Regions from separate parts of the Homo sapiens genome. Here region 1 is linked to region 2. The links come from fine-mapping of genetic effects on gene expression. A gene starts in region 2. The other region holds a variant in brackets. All regions are shown on one strand. Distances are from middle to middle. Region 1 overlaps UGT1A8 (UDP glucuronosyltransferase family 1 member A8). Region 2 holds the start of UGT1A8 (UDP glucuronosyltransferase family 1 member A8).

The links. PIP is the estimated chance that this variant, and not a neighbour inherited with it, causes the effect.
Region 1: its variant is the best candidate, but not a certain one, in a credible set for the expression of UGT1A8 in transverse colon (GTEx, PIP 0.53).

The regions. Positions count from the first base shown.
Region 1 is chr2:233,753,992-233,758,386 of GRCh38, forward strand. The region is part of intron 1 of UGT1A8 (UDP glucuronosyltransferase family 1 member A8); the gene reads left to right. All of the region lies in intron 1 of UGT1A10 (UDP glucuronosyltransferase family 1 member A10), which reads left to right. The region is part of intron 1 of UGT1A9 (UDP glucuronosyltransferase family 1 member A9); the gene reads left to right. The region is part of intron 1 of UGT1A7 (UDP glucuronosyltransferase family 1 member A7); the gene reads left to right. It also overlaps UGT1A6, UGT1A5, UGT1A4, UGT1A3, UGT1A and the pseudogene LOC100286922. Among named protein-coding and RNA genes, the nearest start is that of UGT1A1, 4.1 kb to the right of the region's middle. The variant C/G (reference allele first, on the strand shown) is at 2,244.
Region 2 is chr2:233,615,339-233,619,733 of GRCh38, forward strand. UGT1A8 (UDP glucuronosyltransferase family 1 member A8) reads left to right here and starts at 2,295. Exons shown (of 5, transcript NM_019076.5): 1 at 2,295-3,224. The coding sequence starts at 2,370. It also overlaps UGT1A.

The sequences.
Region 1 (4,395 bases), 140 kb after region 2:
TTTGGGTAATTTGTTACAGCCATGATAGGAAACGAATGCATCCACTTTGCCAGGTTTACCTGCTTTTATAAAGCCTGGGTTTAACCTTTTATCTAAATAATGGTCAACTCTTCCTACATCACGAGCATTTATGTGCAATTAAAAGCCATCATTAAATTAAGCCAGAGTATTAATATATTCATAGATTTCACCACCACACAGTAAAACATTGAAGTCAAATGATTTAGAGCAAACCACCTGGCTCACACTTTCCCAACGGAAAAAGGTAAGGCTCAAAGTGCTGAGATGAACATTCTGTCCTAGCACTAGGAAATAATCATTGTCTGCCTCAGGCTTAAGTTTAATAAATAGCAAATTGCATACAGATATTTACAATGATCGAAAGACAAACAGAGGTCCTATCCGTGCAGTCCCAACAATAAAGACAGGCATTGGCATAAAGTGTTTATAAATTCTTGGGTACAGCTGTTCTGAAAGTAAAGTTCACTTTCAATCCTAAAAAAAGTCCGCTATTCCTCCAGATGTGCTTAAAGGCAAATGTGGACTGGAATTACTTGGTGTCAATGGGGAGCAACTGCTCTATGCCGTTTATTATGAAGGACTTTAACTCAACTCTCCATCTTCCTCCACTTCCACCCTTTCTTGGCCATTCTCAATGATTCTCTTGGTGGTGATTTTTTTACCATCAACTATTTCAGTGGAAGTCGACATGGACTTGAAGCTGCCTGTCCCATCACTACCGTAGGACATGCAGAAGGAAGAAAGGCCCCCACTTCCCAGGGAGCCAAAGGAACGAAATCCTGTATCAAAAGAAGAAAAACCACCCTCAAAAGCTGGAAATTCACTGAAGGCAGAGAAAAGGGGTGCAGACCCTCTGCTTCTGCTTCCCAGGGAGTTCCTCTGACCCCCCAAAATATTCTCCAGCGGGTTTCCCAAGAGGTCAAAGGAGAATGGGTCCCGGCCGCCAAAGAACTCCCTGAAGACCTCGGCGGGGTCACGGAAGCTGAAGACCTACTCGAAGGGGTCCTTGAAGGGCCTGCCGCCTGCGCAGCCGCCCTCCGCCCTCGCCTCGCCATAGCGGTCATAGATATCGCGTTTCTACGCGTCCGACAACACCTCGTAGGCCTCAGCCACCTGCTTGAATCTTCTCACCGCTTCCTCCCTGTCCTCGGGGTTTTTGTCGGGGTGCCACTTGAGCGCCAGCTTGCGGTACGCCTTCTTGATACCCTCGGACGAGGCCTACCGGGGTACTCCCAGCACCTCGTAGTAGTCCACTATGCTGGACTGCCAAAGAGCCTGCGGGGCACTGGCACAGCGAGCGGCAAGGCTGCCAGCACCCGCGCACAGGTCAGAGGCTTGGCGACCTGGGCCGCCTGGAGGGCCGCCCCTTATGACGCAGCCACATCTCATTGGCCGAGGCCTGTGAGCGCCTCGCATCCCAAGATGCAGTGCTCCTGGGACTGGCCCTGCTCTCTGTGAGGCTCTGTGAGGCCCTGTGATGCTCCAAGACCAGGCCCCGCCCACTCCGGCCTCCAACCAGCCATGGTCTCCAAAAAGGATGGGAAAAAGAGGTTGGGGAAAAGAGAGGGCCTTGACTTTGGCTGCCTGAAGAACTGTTTTTCTTAAAGTAGGCTTTATATCAGTCTTTTTCCTCGGCCACAGGAGGGAAGAGGGTGGTGGGAGTGAGTTTAGTCTGACCGGGGCTGAAGACATCCTGTTGTTTAGGACTGCGGTTCTCCAACGTTCCAGCCCCGGTGCCCATTTGCTTTTGTTCATCTGGATTATGCCTATCATATGTACTGCATTAGAGATTAAAACAGAATTAAAAAGACATATTCATTGGGCAATTTAAGAAGAATAAACCCATGACACACTAACAAACCTTTTTATGTAACTTTTTTTGAGACAAAATGTAGTGAGAAGAGTGGCATCGTTTTACAGTTTTTGCATCTCTCTCTTTAGTACTTGGCTCTATAGAGAGGTGGATTCTCATGTCAGCTTCTGCATTCTATCTATTGTGATATTACACATCCCCCATGTAGCTTCTGGAAAACTCCACTGTACACTTGTGGGAGAATGACAATGAGAAAATCAAGTAACATTATTACGGAAATAGTTTTGACTTTGTAAAATTCTCCTGAAAAATTACTGGGGATCCCTAGGATTTCCTGGCTCATACTTTGAGAATCGCTAGTCTAGCAGAGTAGTCCCTGGTATTCTGAAGGGATTAGTTTAGGACAACC[C/G]TCCTTCCCCATACCAAAATCTAGATGCTCAAGCTCCTTTTATAAAATGACACAGTATTTGTATATAACCTACCCATATCCTCCTTTAAACCTCTAGTCATCTCTTGATTACTTTTACCTAATAAATGTAAATGCTATGTAAATAGTTGTTTTACAGTATTGGTTTTTTATTTGTATTATTTGTACTGTTTTTTTTTCATTGTTGTTCCCCCCAAATATTTTCAATCTGCTGTTGGCTGAATCTGCAGATGTGAAGCCCAAGTATATGGAGGGTCAAATGTGCATGTTATTCACTTTTCTTGACTGCTAAAACAACCAGGGAGATCCTCTCAGACAAAAGGAAATACAGCACTATTTACTGTATCGAAACCATTAAGACTTGCAGGCCGTGTGTATAGCACTGGGGATAAACATGGGATGCAGTGATTATTTCCGCTAGAACTGCTATATAATGACGATGAATTTTGGGGGGACTTTTTTTGAGATCTGAGTTCTCTTCACCTCCTCCTTATTCTCTTTTTGACACTGGATTCTTTGCTTTGATAAATTGTGGGGCAATACACTAGTAAAGGTCACTCAATTCCAAGGGGAAAATGATTAACCAAAGAACATTCTAACGGTTCATAAAGGGTATTAGGTGTAATGAGGATGTGTTATCTCACCAGAACAAACTTCTGAGTTTATATAACCTCTAGTTACATAACCTGAAACCCGGACTTGGCACTTGGTAAGCACGCAATGAACAGTCATAGTAAGCTGGCCAAGGGTAGAGTTCAGTTTGAACAAAGCAATTTGAGAACATCAAAGGAAGTTTGGGGAACAGCAAGGGATCCAGAATGGCTAGAGGGTAAGAGGCAGAGGGAGGGGGCAAGCAGAAGGGCTAGAGAGGAGGAATGAGCTTGGACAGGTGGGCTGGGGTCTATCCCAGAGTTTTGAGAGCAAGGCAGAGGACTCTGAATTTTCTGTGCCCAGGAAGCTGCTGACCAAGGTTCCAGAAGTGGTGGTGAGGTGGGGTTATTCAGGTGGCAGCCGATGCAATGATTCAGAAGGGACAGCTGGGGGTTGGGGGACAGGGGGGCTGGGGCCCTGAAATGGGACCATGACAGCTGGGTCTGAGAGACAGTGGTAGAAACATCCAGATTCAGCACTTACTTGCTGGCTTGGATGCAGGGTCTAGAACGAAAAGAGAAGAAAAGTCACTTCTATACAGAAACATGTCCAGAGCGCTTACTGTCTCCAAAACCATGGACTGGCACCTGAGTGATAGCATGATTCCAAAGCCAAAATCTTGCCTGTAAGGAATATATATATATATATATATATATATGTATATATGATATAGCTATAGTCTAATAGCAAGGACAGATATGCAAACTGCTAAAAGATACAAGGCAGAACAGAACAAAATGCTGTTTTTCTGGGATTTTGGAAATTCAAGGAATTCAAGGGATTCAAGGAAGGTGGCTTTGCTTCCCGGGAGGGTCCTGTAGATGATCTACAGGGCACTGGACATGTTTATGTTGCTCCTTTAGTAATAAGCCTGTCATTCTGATTTGATGAAAGGAGATGAAAGGAGCTGGTAGTGTGTCTGATGGTGGCCTACTAACTTATGTCTTCAGCTTAAAAAGAAAGTAGCTTCAAAAGGGTTCCAGAAACACTTTCCATGGACGTGTCACTCTTTAGCAGCCCCCAAAGCAAGACCATCATATTGCTGCCCTGCTGTGTGATTTCTCAGCCCCTAGAGCACCATCCCCTGTAATTGCCTGGTCATGAGTTTGTCTCTGTCTACCTGACCCCTCCTTTCAGGCAAGGACCATTTCTAACTTGACTTTCTGGGCCTAGTTCCTAGCATAGTGACTGCCATCCAGTAGGGCTCACACGTTCCATAAATATTTGGCAGATGAGGGAATTAGCAATGGGTTCTGCTTTGGTTTCAGAGCAGATATTAATTGGATTGCTTAGTAGTGGTTCTCTGTTGTAATTCATGAGCATGAATGTGGATTGCCCACTATTCAGATTAGTAAGTATTTCTTGGTCAAGGGCAGAGCTGTGGCCACAAACCATCCAGGTACACAGCAGAAGCAGCCTCAAAAAGCTTGGAAGCTCTGCATGATGCAGGAAAGTCATAAAATCATTACAGTGGTGACTTATG
Region 2 (4,395 bases):
GCTCAGTTTCCATGCAGTTGTGTGGTTATGAGTGAGTTTCTTAATCCTGAGTTCTAATTTGATTGCTCTGTGGTCTGAGAGACTGTTTTACTTCCAATTATGTGGTCAATTTTAGAATAAGTGCAGTGTGGTGATGAGAAGAATGTATATTCTGTTGATTTGGGGTGGAGAATTCTGTAGATGTCTAGTAGGTCTGCTTGATCCAGAGCTGAGTTCAGGTCCTCAATATCCTTGCTACTTTTCTGTCTCATTGATCTATCTAATATTGACAGTGGGGTGTTAAAGTCTTCCACTGTTATTGTATGGGAGTCTAAGTCTCTTTGTAGGTCTGTAAGAACTTGCTTTATGAATCTGGGTGCTCCTGTATTGGGTGCATATGTACTTAGGATGGGTAGCACTTCTTGTTGCATTGATCTCTTTACCATTATGTAATGCCCTTCTTTGTCTTTTTTGATCTTTGTTCATTTAAAGTCTATTTTATCAGAGACTAGGATTGCAACCCCTGCTTTTTTTTTCTTTCCATTTGCTTGGTAAATATTCCTCCCTCCCTTTATTTTGAGCCTATGTGTGTCTTGCACGTGAGATGGGTCTCCTGAGTGCAGCACACCGATGGGTCTTGACTGTTTATCCAATTTGCCAGTCTGTGTCTTTTAATTGGGGCATTTAGCCCATTTACATTTAGGGTTAATATTGTTATGTGTGAATTTGATCCTGTCATTATGATGCTAGCTGGTTATATTGCCCACTAGTTGATGCAGTTTCTTTATAGTGTCAATTGTCCTTACAACTGGGTATGTTTTTGCAGTGGCTGGTACTCATTTTTCCTTTCCATATTTAGTGCTTCCTTCAGGAGCTCTTGTTTAAGGCAGGCCTGGTGGTGACAAAATCTCTCAGCATTTGCTGGTCTGTAAAGGATTTTATTTCTCCTTCACTTATGAAGCTTAGTTTGGCTGGATATGAAATTCTGGGTTGAAAATTCTTTTCTTTAAGAATGTTGAATATTGGCCCCCACTGTCTTCTGGCTTGTGGGGTTTCTGCAGAGATATCTGCTTTTAGTCTGATGGGTTACCTTTGTGGGTAACCAGACCTTTCTCTCTGGTTGCCCTTAACATTTTTTCCTTCATTTTAACCTTAATGAATCTGATGATTCTGTGTCTTGGGGTTGCTTTTCTCGAGGAGTGTCTTTGTGGTGTTCTCTGTTTTTCCTGAATTTGAATGTTGGCCTGTCTTGCTAGCCTGGAGAAGTTCTCCTGGATAATATCCTAAAGAGTGTTTTTGGTACATACGTTTAAACAACCAGATCTCCTGAGAAATCACTCACTATTGGGAGGACAGTGCCAAGCCATTCATGAGGGAACCATGCCCATGATCCAAACATCTCCCACCATGCTTCACCTTCAACTCTGGGGATTATATTTGACCATGATATATGGAGGGGACAAACATACAAATTATATCAAAGGCATAGCATGGCTACTGTGAAAGGAGGGTAAAAACACAAAGATGACATCACCACTGACCTCAGGGAGTGCCCAGTAGACTGAGGGAGACAAGTACATATTTTCCTGAAGGAGGGCACTGGATTGATGGCATGTTTAGAATGTGGAAGTAGAGCGGCCACAGAAAGGCAGCCCGGCAGAGTGCTCGCACAAAGACTGGGCTAGAGACTCCCCACTGCATGTGATGTATCTGAGGAAAGTCATTAAAATAGGTGATGGTCACTTTCCATCAAGTCCCTGGTATGGTCCATGGAGGCAGGGTTGTCAATGTCATTTCGGCATTTCAGAGGCCTCTCAGGGTTTGGATATGGCAGAAGACAACCAGCAATGATTATGCATTGCAGAGATGCAGGTGAGCCCCAATTTCTTGCCAGCTGGGAAGTCGGTGCTAAGGGGCCTTGCTGTCTTTCCTTGGAACATAGGATACCAATTTCTTTCTGGACAGAGAGTATTTGGTTGGCTAAAGTTAAAATCTAAATTTTGCTTTGGGATGAATTCCAAAAATATTAGCTTTATTCAAATTTACTTTCACTTTATCTTTCTGAATCTTCAAGGTCCTAAAGCATTGCTTAGTAATTTTGTTTCTAAACTCACGTTACAGCACTGGGCATGATCTGTCCAAGGCAGAGACTATAAGCTACTCTTATAGTACTCTTATGAGATACATACAAGTAGGTATCTCAAAAAATGATACTCATGTATTCCTGTTCTTATGAGTAAATCATTGGCAGTGAGTGTGATTTTTTTTTTTTTTATGACAGGATAAATACACGCCCTCTATTGGGGTCAGGTTTTGTGCCTGTAGTTCTTCCGCCTACTGTATCATAGCAGCTTAGAATCCCAGCTGCTGGCTCGGGCTGCAGTTCTCTCATGGCTCGCACAGGGTGGACCAGCCCCATTCCCCTATGTGTTTCTCTGCTGCTGACCTGTGGCTTTGCTGAGGCAGGGAAGCTGCTGGTAGTGCCCATGGATGGGAGTCACTGGTTCACCATGCAGTCGGTGGTGGAGAAACTTATCCTCAGGGGGCATGAGGTGGTTGTAGTCATGCCAGAGGTGAGTTGGCAACTGGGAAAATCACTGAATTGCACAGTGAAGACTTACTCAACCTCATACACTCTGGAGGATCTGGACCGGGAATTCATGGATTTCGCCGATGCTCAATGGAAAGCACAAGTACGAAGTTTGTTTTCTCTATTTCTGAGTTCATCCAATGGTTTTTTTAACTTATTTTTTTCGCATTGCAGGAGTTTGTTTAATGACCGAAAATTAGTAGAATACTTAAAGGAGAGTTCTTTTGATGCGGTGTTTCTTGATCCTTTTGATGCCTGTGGCTTAATTGTTGCCAAATATTTCTCCCTCCCCTCTGTGGTCTTCGCCAGGGGAATAGCTTGCCACTATCTTGAAGAAGGTGCACAGTGCCCTGCTCCTCTTTCCTATGTCCCCAGAATTCTCTTAGGGTTCTCAGATGCCATGACTTTCAAGGAGAGAGTACGGAACCACATCATGCACTTGGAGGAACATTTATTTTGCCAGTATTTTTCCAAAAATGCCCTAGAAATAGCCTCTGAAATTCTCCAAACACCTGTCACAGCATATGATCTCTACAGCCACACATCAATTTGGTTGTTGCGAACAGACTTTGTTTTGGACTATCCCAAACCCGTGATGCCCAATATGATCTTCATTGGTGGTATCAACTGCCATCAGGGAAAGCCATTGCCTATGGTAAGTCACCTCTCCTTTAGCACATTAGGAATAATCTGGCTTTGGAAATTAAAAAAAGATTCCTTACTGAATTGTGATTTGACATTTTCATTTGTTGCATTTCAAATTTCTTTCCAGTTTAACAGATTATTTTGTGCCAATTTATGTACTCATCAGTTATCAAATTTTATAAAACTGCCCTTCTTGAAGGTGTGTGTATATAATTTAAAAATTGTAGATCGTATTCAGCTTACATTTTTGAGTACCATGTTTAGAAAAGTACCAAAAACCACAGTAAGAAATTGAACTTTCCTTTTTTGCTAATTCTATGTGACCCCCTAGAGCAAATGCTCTTAGCAGTTTTGCATACATTCTTTTCATTAAAAAAAGTATTTTAGGTGTATATATTTAATTTAAAAATTATAGATCATATTTAGCCCACGTTTTTGAGTACCGTGTTTAGAAAAGTACCAAAAACCACAGCAAGAAATGAAACTCCCCTTTTTCCTAAGTTTTCTGACCCCTAGAGGAAATGCTCTTATCAGTTTTGTGTATATTCTTTTCAGTATAAAAAAAGTTTCATTTATATGCAATATCTAATGTAAATTCTCATACCTATTTTGTTAAAATAAACTTTTATGCTGTGCTGGACATATTCTTCTTTACCTTGCATTTTTTATTTGCCAATAAATTGTAGATTCCTTTATACACCAATACAGACAGATTTGACAAGTTCTTTTCATAATTGCATAAAAGTCTTTACTTTGGATGCTATGTAGTTTTTTAAACCAATTAATATTGATATATGTTTAGGCATTTTCCATTTTTGCTTTTATGAATAAGGCTGTGTAAACATTCTTTAATAATTTCCTTGTGTGAATATATTTCTATATTCTTGCTTTTATCTTAGTAGACTAGAGTCCTACATGTAGGGTTAGAGGGTTTTCCTGAATTGAGAAGATTGGCATCTTTTTGCTATTATATCTTCCTGTTCAGGAATATGTGTGTCTCACTATTTATTCAGGTCTTGTTTTATATACATAAATAAAAATTTTCACTATATAAGCATTTATGTTTGTTATTAACATTTATTCCTTGGCATTTTATGATTTTTGAAACTATTTTTTTACAGGGTAATTTTTCCATTTCTACAATTAACTGACTATTGGTAATTAAAGTTTTGGTTTTTGCG